2 separate regions of the Homo sapiens genome follow, and region 2 is linked to region 1. Evidence: fine-mapped expression QTL. Tissue or cell type: esophagus muscle. Region 1 holds a variant in brackets; the other region holds the start of a gene. All regions are shown on one strand. Distances are between the middles of the regions.

Region 1 (10,444 bases):
TAGCTTATAAGTGCAAGTGTACCCACAAACATGCATGCACACTTGCTGAAATGGCAACAAAGGCCAAGTTAGCAGCATATGTTAAAAAAGAAAAAGTAAAAATAAATATATAAATAAATAGAACAGCCAAGAGGCCAGAGTATAAAGCAGCTCATCCTGAGTGGCCTGGAGATAAAAGCAGATGGAGCACAGCATTACCCAGACTCAAGTGTCTGTTGCACAAAAAGTCCAGGTATTATAACGAGCCTGTGGTATTACAGCAAATGGAACTGCGATCTCATTTAGATTATTCTCCACTCTTATATGCCTTGTTTTGATTTCTGCATACTTGCCTATAAATTGGAAGACACTGTTTTAAGATACCTGTGAAATTTCATCAACTGTGGCTAGAGTTGAAATCTTAACTTCAACCTTAAGAGAAACACTGAATCAGAACTACAAAGCTGACCCGCTCCTAAATTTCTGATGATCCATGGAAACTGTGTGAGATAATAAATGTGTTAAGCCACTGATTTGGGTGGTTATTTGTTTTGCAGAAATGACTAATACAATACAAAATGCACAAAAAGACCCAAGGGCGCAAAGAAACTTGGTATTTGATAAAGTCGACATTCATATTGGGAAGAGAAGTTGAATTAACAAGTTATGTTGAAACAATTAGCTACAATTTGGAAGGAGAATAAAATCAAAGCTAGATATTTATTAAATTCATTATAAGAAAATAAATTCCAGATAAGCCAAACATTATATGTAATAAATAGAAATATAAAAATAACAAGAGAAAATAAAGGCAACAGTCTTTTAAGGGTAGAAAGAGGTCTTTCTGAACATTTTACAAAATCCAGAAAACATGAAAGATAAATACTGATAGATTTCACTACATAAAAATCAAAACATACCATAAATAATGTTAAAAGACAATCAGCAGGACATAAAAAATTATAATATCAGTATCTCTAAAATTACACAATTCTTATAAAGTATAAGAAAAAAGACAATAATTTTGAGAGAAAGGTATTTCACTGAAACAAAATATGGACAGTATATAAAGACATAAAAAGATGTACAAACACACTAATAATAAAATCAATATAAATAAAAACAAAGTACTACTTTAGTCTATCAAACTGACAAATTTAATATGGTAATATGTACCAAAATGTTACATGAATATACCTTCTGATGCAGAAACACCACTCCAGGAATTTATTTTATGGATGCAAAGATATGATCAACGATATTCAACATACCATTTTTATTGCAGTGAAAAAATGAAAACAACCAAATGTTCACAAATATGTAAATAAATTATGACATGCATACAGTAGAGTAATCTGCAATCATTAAAAAGAACAATATATCGTTATATTGCTTGAGATTCTCCTCCAAAAAAGTTGGAAAATTGCATTTTTAATATGAACCCATTTATGTGAAATTTTATACACACACAGCATCATCCTCATCGTCATCCTTATCATCATCATCATAGAAAGAGGTCAAATAATAAAGAATATGAACCAAAATGATGACAGTATTTATTTGCAATGAAAGGAATTTCACTTTATGCTTTATATTTTTCCATATTACTTAAATCTTCAGTAATAGGTATTTAGTATCTTTATATACTAAAACAAAATTAATATTACAGTCTTTTCTGCTACAATAGCTATTTCTTAATGTAAATTAGCTCATATATAGGAAAATGACGTCAGTCTTATGTGAAAGCTATGCTGGTTCATACACAATTTTCCCCAGTACATGAAGGTTTTGATTCAACCAAGAGCAAGTCTTCTCCCAATTAAAGTGAAAGTCTCATTTGGTGGCTTCAAGACTTTCCACTGTTAAAGGAGGCTGAGCATACCAACGAAGAAATGCAAAGATATTTTCCCCTGTGTTTAAAATAGAATAAAATCAACAGATCAATATCCTAGAGCAGATTTTCAACTTTGATGAAATTGGTCTGTATTAGAAGTAGATGACTTTAAGGACCTACAACAAAGGAAGAAAACCAGGGTTTCAAGCTAAGACTGATGTGATGCTGGGTGCAAATGCAAGGAGGGAGTTAATAGTGCTCGTTTTTATGACAACTTCTATTTTCTCAGCTCTGTTTACAAAATGTCACTGGTTTCAAATGATCTGTTCCTAGCCCTATTTTCTTTATAAGCCCTAAAATTTTATGGTTTAATTTTGCAGAATTAAAGATTTTTCAGGAATGCATGTATGTCATTAATAGGAGAAATGCCTCTACTATTCTGAGTAAAATGCAGTAAGGTAGAGAAATGTTCCATATCAAAAAGAAACAAAAAACAAAAAAAGGAAGCAAAAAGGAGAAATGAAGGAAGGGAGGGAAGGAAAGAAAGAGGGGGAAAAAGAGGAAGAGGAAAGAAAAAAACTGCACACTTCACTTTGTTTTAGTGAGAGTGTCTAACGAAAGATATTAAATGCAGGGCAAAACAATCTCATTAATATTCTTGATTTATACCACACATTTTGATTCTATATGAGATATATCTAAAGAAATGGTCTTTGCCCCATCGGACACTTAAAATCTAAACAAGGGAGTGAATTAAACAGTCATCAACTATGGTGGGGCAGGAAAAGGGACTAATCCAATTAACTTTAGGACACAGTTATTTAATTATACCCAACCCAAGGGTATAGAGTCAAATACTATAGGCGGTATTTGGGCTGGGAAGTTGGGGGGTGGGGAATGCAAACAGTGAGAGAAACAATTGTGAAACTACTTAAGATACATTGTAGGACTCAGCAAATGAGTTGGGAGAACAGTGGTGACTGTGGGAAAAGGGAGATAAAAATACACAGTGGGAATCAGGGAAGAATGCTGTGGGGCCCTGGAAGCAAAACCATATAGAAGTAGCAATGAGTATATGTAGTACTCAATTCTTAGGGTCTAATACCATTCCCTACTCCAAAGAATCAGCAATCTTCAGAGTAAAGGTTGATTCTGGGGCTGTGGTGGGGAAGGTTTAAGATGAGCCTGAAACATTTTCTTTGGCCACTAAGAAGTGCTTAGAAAAAAGATGGAAGTACATCAAAAGGAGACGGGAGCTTGCCTGGTGATCCCACTGGCTAAATATGAAAAAAATTTGATTACTTATTAAATAAAGTCAGTAATGAGTTTAAACTACTGGAAAAACAGCTTTGAATGTGCTAATTTTCTGAATCTGAGCAATACTTTAAAATATGGGTTTTAGCTTCAAAAGGTAAATCAGGTAATTTCATTTTATTTAAGTAATACCATGAAAATAATGTTACAAACTACTAAGTTAAATACAATATGAAATATTGGTGGTGGGTTGTTTTTTGTTGTTTTTTGGGGTTTTTTTGAAACAAGGTCTCCCTCTGTTGCCCACGCTGGAGTGCAGTGGCATGATCACGGCTCACTGCAGCCTCAATTCCCAGGCTCAAGTGATCCTCCCACTTCTGCCTCCCAATAGCTAGGACCACAGATGCACACCACCAGGCCTGGCTAATTTTTTATATTTTTTGTAGAGATGGAGTTTCACCATGTTGCCCAGGCTGGTCACAAACTCCTGAATTCAAGTGGTCCACCAGCCTCAGCCTCCGGAAGTGCTGGGATTACAGGTGTGAGCTACTGTGCTCCGCCTAAAATATTGTTTTAAAATAAGTCCCCTTTATGATCATTCTCAGAAATTTGTTAGAAAAGAAGTTCCCTTGCACATATAAAAAATTTTTTTCAATTTATAAATTATCCTTCTACACTAATTTCCAAAGAATAATCATTGAGATGAGTTAAAGCTTTTCACTATTCTTTGAATATTATATCAGCATATCCAACTGTTAATTGAATTTGAGATCCACTAGTAAAGCAAAAAGCTTGTGACTTTGAAGACTATTTAAAATGTACAATGTTTTATTAATTATCATTAGTAGTACTATTATACAATGGTTGTACCCTTGTAAGTTTGTTAAGAAACAGCTGACATTGAAATTGTCTGCATCTAAAGGACATGTCAGGAAAAGCAGAGAAATCTTACCAAAAAAAAAAATTGAATCAACATCTCTTCTTTTGGTATTTACCCCTTTCACATCAATAAACATTTACTGAATATCTGCTAAGTGCCAGGCATCATATCAGTTTCTATACCGAAAGAGTAAAGACGTTTCTGTATAGTATCTATATAGATATTGAACATTAAGCATTGTTCTTTGGAATTATTCCAGCCTTGAGATAAGGCTAAAAGGGCCATAAAAATAAAATGAAGAAAGATGGATTTTATAAAGGATAGAGGCAATTGGGGATGTTATGGAAAGACAAACTACACAGCATTTTATACTCTCTGGTTCTTCTACTTTCAGAGAATGACTCTATCATCCAAACAGCTGCCCAAAGGTCAACATGGTAGTGAGCCAAAGTGAGCATTCATGAAAAAAATAGAAATCATCCTAACTTTCTCTTACTTTAAATCGTTCAATAACTCCTCATTTTCTATAGGATAATATCAAGCTGCTTAGATTTAGCATATAAGGCTAATTATGATTAGATTCCTAGTCTCATCACTTCCACTTTTTTTTTTTTTTTTTTTTTTTTTTGAGACAGGGTCTCACTCTGTCACCCAGGCTGGAGTGCCGTGGTGCGACCTCAGCTCACTGCAACCTCTGCCTCCCAGGCACAAGCAATCCTCCCACTTCAGCCTCCCAAGTAGCGGGAACCACAGGTATGTGCCACCACACCTGGCTAATTTTTGTATTTTTTGTAGAGATGGAGTTTCATCATGTTTCCCAGGCTAATCTCAAACTCCTGAGCTCAAGTGATCTACCCACCTTCCCAAAGTGCTGGGATTACAGGTACCAGCCACCGTGCTGGGCCAGTTCCTCTCTTTCACAGCACATCATGCTTCAACCAAACCCACCTCCATACAATTTCTAGAATATGCCACACTTTTACTTGTCTCTGGGCCCTTATACATCTCTCCCTTCTGTCTACATCACTCTTCCCACCTTTCTTTGTTTTGGCCAGCTTTACCCATCCTTCAGGTTAGCTTAGATGTCACTATCAGGAAGTCCACTCCGACTCTCCAAATCTGACTTAGATTTCCTTCCTATGTGTTCCCATAAAACTCTATGCTCCCCCTAGCACAGCATTTATCACACCTGATTTTCTCATCCTTACCCCTAATCAGTTGTGAGTTCTGCGCGAGCAGAAACACTTGTTCACTACTATACTTAAGTGCTTTGCACTTAAGTGCTCAGTGTTCAATACAGTTTCATTGAAGAAATTAATTAACCACTTAGCTGTCCATATAAACTACATCATACTCAGAATGTGATATAAGTTCTGGAGGCCTTGATTGAACAGCACTGCACAACCACATGCCATAAATTTTATGTGTGTGTGTGTTAGTTTGTGTGTGTGGTGTATGTACACACAAATGACTGTCTCCATCTCTTACCTGATAGTTTTACTTCACAGCTGAAGATATTTATGAAGAAAGTGGTTTTTAAAAGAAATTATACTTATGCTGTAAGTATAAATATACACAGAAAGAAATATGTGGGCTGGACACAGTGGTTCATGCCTGTAATCCCAGCACTTTGGAGGCCAAGGCAGGAGGATCACTTGAGCTCAGGAGTTTGAAACCAACCTGAGCAGCATAGGAAGACCCTGTCTCTAAAAAAAAAAAAAAAAAAAAAATTAACATAGCCAGTCATGGTGGCACATGCCTGTGCTCCCAGCTACTCAGGAGGCTGAGGTGGGAGGATCACTTGAGCCAAGGAGATCGAGACTGCAGTGAGCTCTGATCACACCACTGCACTCCAGCCTGGGTGACAGAGCAATGAGACCCTGGCTCATTTAAAAAAAAAAAAAAAAAAAAAAGGCTGGGCACAGTGGCTCACGGCTGTAATCCCAGAATTTTGGGAGGCTGAGGTGGGCAGATCACAAGGTCAGGATGTTCAAGACCAGCCTGGCCAACATGGTGAAACCCCGTCTCTACTAAAAAAACAAAAATTAGCCAGGTGTGGTGGCGCATGCCTGTAGTCCCAGCTACTCGGGAGGCTAAAGCAGGAGAATTGCTTGAACCTGAGAGACGGAGGTTGCAGTGAGCAGATCATGCCACTGCACTCCAGCCTTGGCGACAGAAC[A/G]AGACTCCATCTCACAAAAAGAAAAGAAAAGGAAGGAAGGAAGGAAGGAAGGAAGGAAGGAAGGAAGGAAGGAAGGAAGGAAGGAAGGAGGGAGAAAGAAAGAAAGAAAGAAAGAAAGAAAGAAAGAAAGAAAGAAAGAAAGAAAGAAAGAAAGAAAGAAAGAAAGAGAACATACGTCGATTACTACATATATATCTGTATATTGAACTTCAGGAAGTTGACTTTTCTGTATTTTTCTTCAATAAATCATAACACAACACTCTTGTCCAAAAGCAGTAAAGATGGATAAGAAGGATCAAGTAACTTTCATAATCCACCCAACTATAAGGCATTAAGAATTTTTTTCCCAATTAACAGCTGATTTTTAGGAAGTGTTTAGTTAGATTTTCTTTCAAAGCAATTATTTTTCAGTCTGTGCTTCATGGTCTCCTAATGATTCCCTGGAGTCTCAAGGGCCAGGGGGAGCAGGTGCTAAGTGAACAGAGTTCTGAACTGCCTCAATCAGAGCCACTCTGCTTTTTATCTGGTTTTTTTTTTTTCAATAATGGAATTCCAACCAAGATTTTCTTTGAAGAAGGGTTCACTACATTAAAATAAGAATAAAAGAAAAAAAGAAAAAGGTTAAAAAACACTGCCTTAAAGAATCAGCAGTGGATTGAGGTTTGCACTATATAATTCAAGCTCTAATGTATTTCATATTTCTTGGTTAGACTAAATTCAACTGTCAGCTTTATAGGCCTTTCTTTGTGCTAAAATGAGAAATACCATTTGAATACAAAAATATCCAGGTAGAGGGAAAACAAAATGGGTTTTTGATAAGTATATTTATTCTCTGATGCAGCTATTTCTAAATTTACTTATTATTTTTAATGGCTTTATTTATGTACCAATCTTCAAGTTAATGATTCATAACAGAACACCAAAATAATCTAATTGAACAACAGAAGCCCACTGTAAATGCCAGCTGCTGCTATGTTTCATATACTGTAAACAAATACCCACCTCATTTTAATAGTTTCTTAGTAGAAAGATTACCTTAAAGGAAAAGATCCACCAAACTCATATTTAAATAATAATTTTAGCTATTTTCGCAATCTAGAAACAACAGGGGCTCCGGGTAACTGAAACTGGGGGTGCTCCATCATAAAACATCCAGAAGACCAGTGGGGTGAATTTGATCTGCTGGTGAACACAATGAAGACTAATAAGCAAAAATGGGCTTCTTCCAACAGAAACCTCCTGCCAACCTGTGCACAACATTGTGCAATTGCAGAACGGCACTTCACTGGAAGTCAGGGAAACACTTGCAATCAAGTCCAGGCTCTGTAACAAGTTAAGTGAATCCAAAACCTTTACAGCTGAACACATAAAATTATTCAAAAGCTCTAACGAGGTGAGAAGCAACCAAACTTGATTTTCATCTCTGGGAAACCCTATATTAGCACTGTAACCCACAAGGCCCTCTTCCACTTCCAAACTCCTCTGGCATTCACTAGCCACACCTTCATTTGGCACCCAAGAGTGTTAGTTACCGTTTTATAGGTAACTCCCCAACTAAGTTGTAAGCCCCTAAAGGGTATACATAGGTCATGTCTCACTCTTTTCTATACATCCTAAAATTCTTAGAATTTTGCTAAGCATTTGCAGATGCTAAATAAATGTATCTTGACTGTTTGTTTAATTGTAGATATGGTTTATATTACCACCCGTTTACAATGTTGATAGTTTCATATGGTTGTGTCAGACGACATTCCACTCCTTTAAATGCCAGTCAGGAGAGTAACGGAGAAAATAAGCGGCCAGATCAGGCTGTATTGACAGCCATGCAACTAATCTGATACTACCTCTCCATGCATGCGTCCCTCCCAAAGACCAAGTGCCCACTCTGTTCTAGGGCTAAGTGTTTTCTGTTCCTGCTATGCTTTGTACCAAGTCAGAAATAAGATTTGGATTCAAGTCTTAGCTATGCCAATGAGTAAGCAATTTGAATAGATGACCTTAGCTCCAATTATCTATGATTCTATGATTCTAACTTCAGGCCTTTACCTTCCAATATCAGAATGGCCCCTCCCTCACAGTACTAAAATTACTTATCTTCCATGATATGTCCCATTATCATCATCAATACACCCATGTTCAAAGGCCATTTCTGACTTCTGCTACAAGGTCAACATACTCATGAAATTATTTACACTTCTAAAGATAACACTGTTAAATTTCTTGTCTGATCTTTACGTCATACCTGCGTTCATTTAATAAACACAAGTGGGTAGTTGGGTAATATGGGAAAAGACACTCATTTAGGGAAGTTTCTAACATATTCCTGCTTTCAGCAGCAAAGATAAGTTATGGCTCCATTTGCAAATAAGCACCAATAATAGTAAATAAAACTAAATTATTTTTATACTGGTCACTAGGAAGGTTGTTTTCATCTTAAACGGCAGCTTAGTAGCCTTGAGAATAATCTGATCTCTCCCATTTTATAAGAAACTTATTTTTATTGTCTCATCAACATCAAATGATATTAGGGAGTTTCACAATGACTGTGACAATAAATGGCTTAGAAAGAAAATTCAGTAACAATTTTGATAGGTTTTAAGGAATATATGAGCTAGATAAAAATATATGAGCCATATAGAGATTTGATGCAATTTAAATTAATATCTACCAGTTTTGAAAAATAAAGTTTCTCAGAACCTAATGTAGCTTTCTTCTGCAAAAAAGACGAGGCATATCACCTAAAAAGACCTGTCCCTAACCAACTGTTATCCAAGTAATTAAAAAGAAAAGTGAAAATTTCACCTCTTCATACATGTTAAGCAAAACCAGCCATAATAAAATCCCTGATGAAAGGTGAGTTTTAAAAATAAAAGTGAGACGTAGGTAACAGAATCCTCCAAGAAATACTTAAAAGGTTAGTTTTCCTCAGCCAAAATCATATCAACATTTTCGTATATTTTGGATATTAACCTCAGTACAAATATTAGATTATCAAACATAAAATATAAAAATATTTGGCTAATGGTATAGTAAGGTTTTGTTTCATTTTTAATAGAGTGATTAGCCATTCACAAAAATCAGTCAATATTACTCCTCCATAAATTATGACAAAAAATATACAAACTCTGAATGAAGCATTAATTGGGAAAAGAAAAAAGCTAAATATTTTTATTGTGAAACTAATAAAATAAAAACCTCAGTCTAGTAGAGAATATACACTTTGTGTTGATTAAAATTTTATATCACTATGTTAAACACAGTAATACTGAAAATTGTTATTTTAATTACCTCATTTAATCTCTACATTAACCTTATTTTTATCCCCATTTTAAAAGATATAAACCGATGCTCAGAGTGCTTAAGGAATCTTCCCAAGGTCAAAGAAACAGTAAGTAGCAGAGCTGAATCCAGATTATTTGACCCTGTAAACTAGGTATTTAAGCACTATGCTACACTGCCTCCAGTTATTCATAACTCCCAATAAATATTCAACACTCCCAATAAAACACAGGGCACGATGAGTTATTGATTTCATAACTGCTACTGCAGCATTCAGATACTACTTATTTGGAAAAGTGTTCTGAATACACAATTAATTCAATCCACTATGTAAAAGGTAAATGTTCAAGTCTCATTCAAATGGAGAAGGGGTAGAAAAGGAAGAAAAGTACAAAGTCTATATGGAACATCAATTAATAAAAAATATTATCAGGGTTGTCTTTAAACTTCACAATTACTGAAGGTCCTTATTATCTTGCTGTCATTTCAGCACTCTCAATTGCCTCTTAGAATTTGAAATTTCACTGTTGAAACAAAAGAAACATAAAATATATGTGCATTCTAAAAAATTCTGCCCTTTTGCAATTTATCTTCTACATTTATTACCTGGATCTTCTAACACTCGACTAGAAACTAAAGCAATCCAACTGTATATACAAAATGTAAAACTGGAAATGCCAGAAAATCAACATGACCTTTCAAATATAACATTTTCCACAATCATTTACTTAATACTAGAAAAACATTTTACAGTATTTAAAGCATAATCTTTATGTGTAATACTTTCGGCAAATATAAAAGCAAATACAGAATAAAGTCAACCACATTTTTAAACCAAAACTGCAATTAATTTTAAACTACTACTTTTTCTCCAGTAGTTCATTATCTATCTATTAAAACATTCATAACCATATTAGTGTGCTCTCCGTTTCAAATACAAAGCTGATGTTAACCACTGTACTAGTCACCTCCTGTACCTGGTAGGGACTGCTAGTATAACAAACCCCTCCCCTGACACCAATTTCCCTATATTAGTTTG
Region 2 (10,444 bases), 24 kb after region 1:
CAGTCACAAAGACCAGCAAATTCTCCCTCATCTTACTTTTCCTAAACATTCTCACTTCTCTATTCCCACTACTTCCACCTTTATCTAAGCTTTCAACCTCTCTTATCCCTACTGATGTACTGTCCTTGAAAGCTTCCAGTCTTGCCATGACCCCACACCCAACCCCACTCTACCCTCAATCTACCCAGCACACTGCTTTCAGTGATCTTCCATGACACTCACAATTCTTCAGTGGCTCACTACTACACATGGTATAAGAAGTGTACCCTGAACTGGCTATCCAGTTTCATCTAGGAAGTGTACCCTGAACTGGCTAACCAGTTTCATCTCCTTTCACTCCTGACCTTGTCCTTCACACTCTAATATAACTGACCTACATATAGTTCCCAGTATACACTATGTTCTCGTAATGCCACACAACTACTCATGCTGTTAGCTTTACCTAGAAATGCTTTCTATTGCTTGTCAACATGCCCACTCCTACTCAGTTTTCAAGTCTCAGCTCAAACACAACCACTACTAAAACCCTTACCTGGTATTGCAGGCAGAGATCAAGAGCTCTTGCTAGATTTCATTTGTACTTGTACCTACCTCTGTTATAGCAAATAGCATACAGTATTTGAACTATTGGTCAAGATATCTGTAGTCCTACAGACTATAAGATCCTTGGTCAAAGATGACTTTTCATCTTTATATCCTCCTAACTAGTTCAATTCACACAGTCACTAGTTCCATGTACATTACTAGCTCAATGCAGATAGATATACTAAAAAAAGGAGGGGCGAGGTTAATGAATAAGGTACGAGTCAATGAAAGAACAAGAAAATCAACTGGACTTTGAGTATAGAAAAAAAAACACCAGATCTTAAGAACGTACAGACATCTTTAGTACAGACATCTGTTACTGTAGTACAGATATCCATTACTAAGTCCTAACCATTAAAAAAAATAGAAAAATATGGTTATTCAGGTAGTATGAAGATGACAAAGAAAAAAACTTATTATTGGACTAAGTAGACATTAAGAAGGTAAGAGTTTCCAGCGGAACAGTTGACAAAGATCAACAGAGAAGCCAGAGAAAAAGATGGTTCTTTCTAGGAAACAAGTAATTCATTGATCTAAATTCATGGACTGAGCAAAAGACTGCCACCTTTCTCTCAGTTCACAACCCCTCTCCTTTGTCATTATTCTGCATGACCCCTTCTGAGTCCTCACTACCAAATCCCCAATACCATGGGTAGTTCCCCTCCAATGGAGCCACAGGTCCAGGCCAGTGACTTAATCTGGATGCAAGGGCAAGGGATAGAAGGGTATCTTTGTTCTTGTGTCTAGGACTTTGAGGAAAAATGAAACAACTATTTACTGAGAATTTATTTTACGGCAGATTCTGTGCCACATTACACTCACTCACTGAATTTCACAGTAATCATAAGTAATTATCCCATTTATAGATGAGGAATTTGTGTCCAAGGTCAACAGTTAAGCAATAACAGGCCCTGCCTGAAAACCTAAGAATGACAACCTCCAGAGCTTTTTCTATACCCCTCACTACCTCAAAATGGAGGGAGACGTGGTCCAGCCATTCTAGGTTGGCACTCAGGAGACACTTACCTCCAAAACACTATTATATATGTTGATTAGAGTCTACAGTACCACTAATATATAATAAGCACACAATGAGTTTAAAAAGCTTTCCTTAGTACCTTTAGGAAAGTAAGTACTAGATTTCCTGGGGTTCTGATCTGGAAATCTAAATGCTATTTATTCCTATAAGTACATTGTTAACTTTACAAACAACAGACTTGAAAATGAACTTGTGGAATACAATGGGTTCTTAAGTAAGGCTTTTCTTTAAGAATATTTTCTTGCTTCCACAAAAAATACAAAAGCCACCAAAGATAGAATGATTTTGCCTTGTTAACTTGTAAGAACAATGACACTAGAAGAAACCTATGGGAAATGTGCTTATCTGACCAGGTGCTCATTTTCGGTGGGCTGTCATTTGACTAAAACATCATACTAAACCCTACAGACCACAGCTTATGAGAGAAATGCCACAAACTATAGCAGTACAGTTAATATGCCTATAATCTACTGACAAAACATACTCCTCAGTAAAGTGAAACCAGATGTCTGGTGTGAAATCAGATGTCTGTGAACTTGTCTTTCTCAGTTTCCAGAGCAGTATCAGATATACTAAATACACAGCTAAGCTGTATATTAAATCCACAACTTGGCAAAATCATGACAGTTTGGACATGAAGCATCAGCATTTTTATTGTAATCCTTATAAACCAAAGACATTTCCAAAATGGAAATCCTAAGTTTAAGTACTCAGCTAAATACAGTAATATGTCTTTCTCACTTTAAGAATAGTGTCAGGGCTTTTTAAACACATTATAGAAATTCTTTCCCTTCATTTTTCAAGCTGACACTCTTTATCCAAGGCTGTGGAATGATCTGATAAGGCCACATCAGGTGTCAGTCCTCGTCCCAGAAATTCTAGGATCAGATACACCAGGTGAACCCCTGTGAAAAGCAAATCCCAGGGAGGCTTAACAGCTATAGGAAAGTTAGGCACTACATGGCTTTCCACAATCAAAAGGAAGATCATAGGAAAGTAATGGGTGACCACATAGAAAAACAGGGAGGGAAATTTAAAAGTAAGTACTTCTATGCCAGGCACTGTTTTTTCACACATTCTTTTATATATACTCTTTGTTCTGTTTTGATGGATAAGAAATCAAGCAGCAGAGAAATTTTAATGGCCCAAAGTGACACAGCTAATAAAATAAGAGCCAGAAATCAAGCTCATGTCCAAAAGACTGTAAAAGTCATGCTACTTCTACATGAAGTTGTGGGGTGGAGTGAGGAGGGGTGGTAAATAGCCAAGAAGAAGGAGAAAAAGAAAGAAATTTACAATTTTATCAAATAACAGTGAAATATATATATATAAAACATGTATTATGTTCCACATATGTTCCATATATAATACGCAGTTAAGATGTATACATGTTTAACATATACTTAAGCTGCATATTTAGTATGTGTATATATGGAACAAAAAGTTGAAGAAACAAGTATCAAATTGTTAAGTGGTCATCTGAAAGTGGACTCATAGGAAACTCACTTATTGCCTTTTATACCCTCCCAGATTTAATTCTAAATAACTTTTTTTTGACTTTTTATTACTCTTATAACCAGAAAAAGACAAAGAACTATTCTAGCTTAGATCTTTTAAATGAGGCTAAATGCACAGAAACCCATGCAAGTTAAAAATGGTCTACTTTCGAATTTATTTTTCTAAGTACATCATCCTTTACACTCTCCATGATTCCTAATATTAGGTCCTTCTTATGGAACAACTACAAAAGTTATCCTCATCTAATTATTATACTCGTACACTGGAAAATGACTATAACATTATTCATTATAGGAAACAAATCATCAAGGTCAGCCATCCTTGTAAGTTTATTACTGAAAGTACTAGAAAGGCGGAATAATAATTCTGTTCTCCCACAACACTGTATAGACCTGCAAACCACTATGATCAGTAGTACAGGGAAAGTCTTGTAAATTAACATGTAACTATTGAGAAAATCCACAAAACTGGTGAAAGGCCTACCCCAAAACAGCCATCTCCAATACAATCTCATCATTCTCACCATCCTACTTTTATCAAAGTGCTGATAAAAGTGCGTAGCACATGGTAAGAGAGAATTAGCTATTGAATCAATGAAGGAACCCATTATCAATAAACAATCACTTCCTGTTTTCCATAAATTATGTGGTCACCTATCACTTGAGCACAAACAAATAGGCACGTTCAGGACACAGGCAGCCAGTATCAGAATAGGCAGCCTATCACAGAGGGCAATTCTACTTTTCCTGTGTAAGAATCCAAGAATGCAGTTTTACTACATTCCTGCTTGTAGCTAATCTGAATTTCAACTAATTTAAAACGGTTATTTATATGTGACATATAGGATGCATAATGAGCTCCCAACCTTGTGAGAGGAGCTGTGTTTCATTTCACCATACAGGGGAGAGGGAAGCAGTGTATTAAAGAAGTGATAGAAAAGTCCCACAGAAGAACCAATGAAATAGACCACACTGAAAATCACAGTAAGCCTCAGAGAACTTCAGTGTCCTTTTTGGCAACTTTTCAAAAGTGAATGGAATGCTTGCCAGGAGGTACCAAGAGTGAAAGCCCAGAGAAAAAGGCCCAGCCTGGTCATCTCTCTCCCCTCAAAACATCTTCTTCTGTAAGCTTGAGAGATCCCAAAGAACTTCAACACTTGTAATCTTGTTACTAACTTTATGCTTTGGGGTCCTAAAGGATTTTTTCAGGAGTACCCTTTTAAAATGTAAACATCCCTAGGGGGGTTACTGTTCATTATCAAACAGGACCTGGATTCTTTAGTGCTATGGTCTCAGGGATTAGTCAAAGCTGGCTAATAAGATAGGGGCCGGAGACAGACAACTAGAGAGGACCAATGTTCCAAGGTAAAAACAGGTAAAGGGGAAGTGCAGTTTTCTGTCGGGTCAAGGGGCTAAAAGGGATCCACATGCCCAAGCTGTTAAACTCTATAGACTGTGTGAGGCTGAAAACAGTCCGGGGCCTGGAGCCTGTGACTTTGAAGGTGGGTCCTCCAGTTCCCGATGAAAAGGTAGAATCTGGGCCCAAGTTCCCCACGAGCAGTTCTGGACATCTAGCCCTTCTCTCTCTCGCTCGCTCTCAGGATAAAGTCCTAGGTCCTTCCACCCCTGACCATTCCTTACTTACCCTTTCTCCCGCTCTTCCTCGGTGAGAAGGGGTAAGTGGTTATTTTGTGCCCTCGCCCAATTTGGCCAAAACCCTAAAAGTAAAAAACGACAGACAGACACGTGCTTTAAAATCATGTTGTTCAAGCCTGACGCTCTCCCACCACCTGCCCAACACTTCCAGGCAGAAGGCAGCGCGCCCCCACAGCGCTCCCTCACGGCCAGAGCCGGGGGCCGGACTAGGCCCCTTTGTGAGGACTGGGAGAGGGCGCGTTGTTGGGGCGCCGGCTCGGCGGGGAGGAGCGGGCCAGCTCCGGGCCAGGTGTGCCGCCTGTGGCGCCGGTTTCTCAACCTAGTTAGCCAGTGGCACCAAGAAGAGGACTAGGCTGGGGTGGCCGCCGCACGCGCCTCAGATAAACACGCGCACGCACACATGCTCGCGATCACGCAGGACTCGCGGCCGCGCACCCCTCCGCCTCCCGGCAACGCCCGCCCCGCCGGGGCCGGGGCCGACTCCCAGGGAAGGGTCCCCAGCCCAAGAGACCACCAAGGGTCGGCGGCTACGCGCCCGCCGACCCCTGCCAGCCTCACAGCCCCCCACCCGCCGCCGGACGCCGGGCGCCCGCCCTCCGCACCCGCTGCGCAGCTCAGCCCGGGGGAAGTCCCCGCGCAGACCCCGCCCTCCGCCGGCGGCAAGCTCCGCCCCGCTGCCCCGTCGCGCGCTGGCCGCCCGAAGCTCCGCCCCCGGCGGAAAACTGGTCTCTGGACCGCCCGCCCAGGTCGGGCTCAAAATGCGGCGTGGATCTGAAAGGATCAAACACAACACTAATTCAGCAAGCTATTATTGAGCACTTGCCCTAAGCTCAGCAACGTACTAATGGGGGAGACTACAATAAAGAGCCGAAAAGTCTATGAAACTGTGTCTTCAGCTCTTCCTCTTGTTTTAGAAGCCAGGAAACAGAGAACCCTCACAGTTACTTAAGTACAGGGCAGTAGTGGCAAAGCACCTCACTAGCGATCTCTGGGCAACTCTTCATTTCATTTTTTCCTACTCATGAGCACTCAGGAAAACTATTCAGTTTTGCTGCCTCCAGGTAAAACAAAGTGAGTAACACAGGACAGGCGGTTTACTTGAGAGAAACGGGAATTTCATACTGAAGCTTTTGCCCTCAAATGGTACAAACTCTTTTTTTTTTTTTCCTGAGACGGAGTCTCGCTCTGTCGCCAGAGCGACACTGCAATCTCCGCCTCCCGGGTTCACGCCATTCTCCTGCCTCAGCCTCCCTAGTAGCCGGGACTACAGGCCCCCGCCACCATGCCCGGCTAATCTTCTTGTATTTTTAGTAGAGATGGGATTTCACCGTGTTAGCAAAGATGGTCTCCATCTCCTGACCTCGTGATCCGCTCACCTAGGCCTCCCAAAGTGCTAGGATTACAGGCGTGAGCCACTGCGCCCGGCCGAATGGTACAAACTCTTAACTGGGTTATTACAACCTACAAAGAAACCTTCTTATCCATGTTATTAATTATCCTAATTCAATGTGGTTTAAAATGTTGATGAAAGTACCCAAATCATGGTGCTCCAACAAGCTGGATGCCAACCAGGTACTCGTAAGTACTTGCAATTACAGGTGCGATATTTTCATTCCATATCATCCCAAGATGCCCTTCCTTCACGTGAAGCAGCCAGAAAGATCAACTACCAGATTCCGCATGATTGAGGAATTGATAAATAGAAAGGGAAGACCGAAACCGGCCAAATTTTCCCTTCGAAGTGAAACTTGAGAAACTTGCGTGCATTTTACCTGAGTTCCTTTCTCAGCAGATAAACTGTCAGACCTCCCAGATAGTGTCAAGGAAATGCAACTTTCCAGAACACTACATCTGGACAATGAGGTGCATCTGCTGCCTGTTCACAAACTCCTCTTCCTTACCCCTCCATAATTCCCTGCTATAGAAAGCCCTAACTTTAGTCTCCCTAAGACATGTTTGAGACTGGTCTCCCTGCCAGCATCACCTGCATTAAAGCCTGTCTTCCCTGGCAATACTCGTTGTCTCAGGGACTGGTTTTCTTTGCTAGGAGCAACCCAACCTAGGCTGAAGCCCAGGCATTTAGCAGCAGTGGCACCTAGAAATACTGAACAGACATAAAATACTTTTTTTCTCCTTTTCTTACTCCTCCAGTTGTATCTTCATTATTTCTGTCTCTATTCTCCCTCTAGATACTGCCAAACTACTCTGTGCACTTTCAGATCACTTAATACTAATGTAAATAACAGACATTCTGGCACTCTTGGTTCAAAATTTATTCTAAAGGTTTAAGAATCTACTCAGGGTCTTAAATAGCCTGATAACTAAAATTCCAAGAGTTTCCTAAAGAGAGCAAAATTGCTCTCCTGTGAAGGGGATATGTCCCAGTTTTTCTTACTTGTCACTGAAATAATTACTGCAAAGTAAGCTCTTTTCGGCCAGTGCTTAAGGACTTAATTTCAAGAGCACTTAGGTGACAGGACCACCCTCATCAAATAGCAGTCAAGAACTATTTGGTACCATGACCCCAAATTGAATGGAGCTCCTGGTCACTAGGAACTGACAGTCTGGGATGGAATGTAGGTGAATAAACAACAAAGACAGGTGTTTATGGCCTTTATTGTATTGGGAAGTCAATAAACATACAAAAAGAGTTGCTAGGTCTGGCCTGATTTTATCACTAAGATTCATCAAGTGTACTTAAAAAGAAGCTAATATCTGGAAAGGGCAGAACTATGGTATATTAGTCAGGGTTTCCTAGAGGGACAGAACCAATAGGATAGACATATAAATATAAAGAGGAGTTTATTAAGTATTAACTTACATGATGACAAAGTCCCACAATAGGCTGTCTGCAAGCTTGAGGAGCAAGAGAGCCAGTCCGAGTCTCAAAATTGAAGAACTTTGAATCCGATGTTTGAGGGCAGTAAGCGTCCAGCACAGGAGAAAGCTGTAGGCTGAGAGACTAGGCCAGTCTCTCCTTTTCATGTTTTTCTGCCTGCTTTATATTCACTGGCAGCTTATTAGATGGTGCCCACCCAATTAAAGGTGGGTCTGCCTTTCCCAGCCCACTGACTCAAATGTTAATCTCCTTGGCAACACCCTCATAGACACACCCAGGATCAATACTTTCTATCCTTCAATACATTCAAGCTGACACTCAGTATTAACCATCACATATGGAGACAGTAAAAAGATCAGTGATTGCCAGAGGTCACAGAGGAGGGGGATATGAAGCACAGATTTTTAGGGCAGTGAAACTATTCTGTATGATATGATAATGGTGATGCATGTCATTATACATTTGTCCAAACCCATAAAATATACAACCCAAAGAGGGAGCCTTAATATAAAATCTCAACTTTGGGTGATAATGATGTCAATGTAAGTTCATCAATTGTAACAAATATACTGCTCTGGTACAGGATATTCATAGTCAGGGAGGCTGTGCAGATGTGGGGTACAGGAATATATAGGAACCCTATACTTCCTGCTCAATTTTGCTCTGAACCTGAAACTGATCTTTGGGAGAAAAAAGTTTATGAGAAAAAGAAGCAGCAGTTAGAGCATCCTATTTTATTCTAATTTATCAATTAAATTCTAAGCTGAATATTTGGCTTTATGTATCTAGTTCAAATATATTTGCCTTGTCTCCTTATATATTAAAGCAGACCTCTATTTGTTGTTAATACCATCAGGGGAAAATGAATCATAAAGTCCTAACTAAGGTACAAATTTAAACTATAGTTAGGCATCAAATCTAATGGTCAAAGAGATATTTAAACAAAGTTAAAATAATTAAGTTTACAGATTCCACAAATATAGATATTAAAATATATTCCTATCTATACATACTTACCATTGGTAAGCAAATAATAGAAGGTATCATAGAGTAGCAGTTCTCAAACTACTTTTTGATCTCAAGTTCTCTTTACATTCTTAAAAATGATTGAGAACTTTAAAGAGCTGTTGTTTATGTGGGTTATATATGTCCATATTTACTGTATTAAAATTTAAGATAGAAAAATGTTAGACATGTGTTTGCTTAATTTAAACCCATTACATGTTACTGTAAAAGTTATTTTTATAAATAATGACTACTTTTTTTCCAAAAAATTAGAGAAAAGTGGCATTTTTAACATTTTATAAATCTCTTATTATCTGGCTTAAGGAGAGCACTGGATTCTCATATTCTGCCTCTGCATTCAGGCTGTTGTGATATGTTGTTATACCTAAGATATGAAGAAAATTAACTGTCATACGAATTCATAGTTGAAAAAGAGAGGACCTTACAAAGCTCCGGGAAGGGTTTCAGTAACCCCTAGGTGTTCTCAAACCTCACTTGGAGAATTACTGCCAAATGGCCTTTTGCATTTCATTTGTTTGAATGTCATATATTTCCACACAGGCTTCTGTTAACACCTGAAATTATAGCCCTTTACTTATTTCAAGCTAAAACTCATATTTGTCAGCTCATATCAAACCATGACATTTCAATAAAGTTTTTAAAAGCTTTTACTATAGCAACTCTGATGAAATTGATATTATTATTTGAATTGATATGAAAACACTTGAGATTTCATTTATATCCTTCATCTCAAACGTTTTGGAAAATTTTGAATATAAATTGTACCATCTGGAAAAAATGTAAGATTGGTATATAGTTATTAATCCAATTTTAGGTATGCTTATAACAAGGTATATCCCCTTTTATAAAAATAATTTAAAAGCGAGCTTAAAACAAAAACAAAACAAGCAATTACAGTTTTATTTATGAACTAAATACTTGATTCTAAACTTACTACCTTGGAATAAAATTTTAAATATATAACCTTTCATTTTTATTACAAATAAAAATAATGTAAATCATCCAGTTTGGGGTTTTTTAATACAATTTCCAACTAAAAGAAACTAGAGCTGACCAACCAAATGTCTGACTTCAGATCTGGGTCAGGTTATACACAAGATGAGCATAGGATAACTTGTCCCACAAAGCCGGGAATCCATTAACAACAAAATGTGTCAAAGGGACACAGAAACCAATATCAAATAGCTCCTTTGGCCAAAGATGGACAATTTAAGCATCAAAAAAAGTAATGGATGCAGTTGTTAGAAACATACTGAATATATAAAAATTCATGAGTTCTTAATGATGTTCCAAAAAGGGGAGGTCAATAAAAGGAAAAAAAAAATCCACTGGACACTATTGCAAGTAGCTAGCATTAAGCCCTTATTCTAAAATTGTCCATTAAAAGAAAATAATTCAAATTTTCTGATGTATCTTTCCTGATTAAACTATATATCAGAAAACCAAATTGGTGTTGAGGGAAAGTTGTTTTTTATAATAAATATGAAACAACAGAATTGGAAACCCACCATTTAGCAATCTTGCATTTAATAAATGATTCAGGCAACCATCATCAATGGATCAAACCAACAGATGAAATGTTCATGAGGAACTTCACAATGGAGATCAGACCGTCACTACCTCAGCCTAATAATCTGTCATTACAAGTGGGACTCCAGACATTGTGTGCTTCCTGATCTAATGCCATCTGAAGCACTCAGCACAACTATGAAATGTTATCACCCAAAAAACATGAATGGGATCTAATCAAGCCTTAAAACTGACTTCTCACTTACAGGCTTA

What was found. PIP is the estimated chance that this variant, and not a neighbour inherited with it, causes the effect.
Region 2: it holds the start of IMMP2L, and the variant in region 1 is fine-mapped to the expression of IMMP2L in esophagus muscle (GTEx, PIP 0.98).

Annotation. Positions count from the first base shown.
Region 1 is chr7:111,532,979-111,543,422 of GRCh38, forward strand. The region is part of intron 1 of IMMP2L (inner mitochondrial membrane peptidase subunit 2); the gene reads right to left. Among named protein-coding and RNA genes, the nearest start is that of IMMP2L, 24 kb to the right of the region's middle. The variant A/G (reference allele first, on the strand shown) is at 6,127.
Region 2 is chr7:111,557,065-111,567,508 of GRCh38, forward strand. It overlaps IMMP2L (inner mitochondrial membrane peptidase subunit 2), which reads right to left and starts at 5,428. Exons shown (of 6, transcript NM_032549.4): 1 at 4,787-5,428. RefSeq lists a silencer at 4,960-5,589.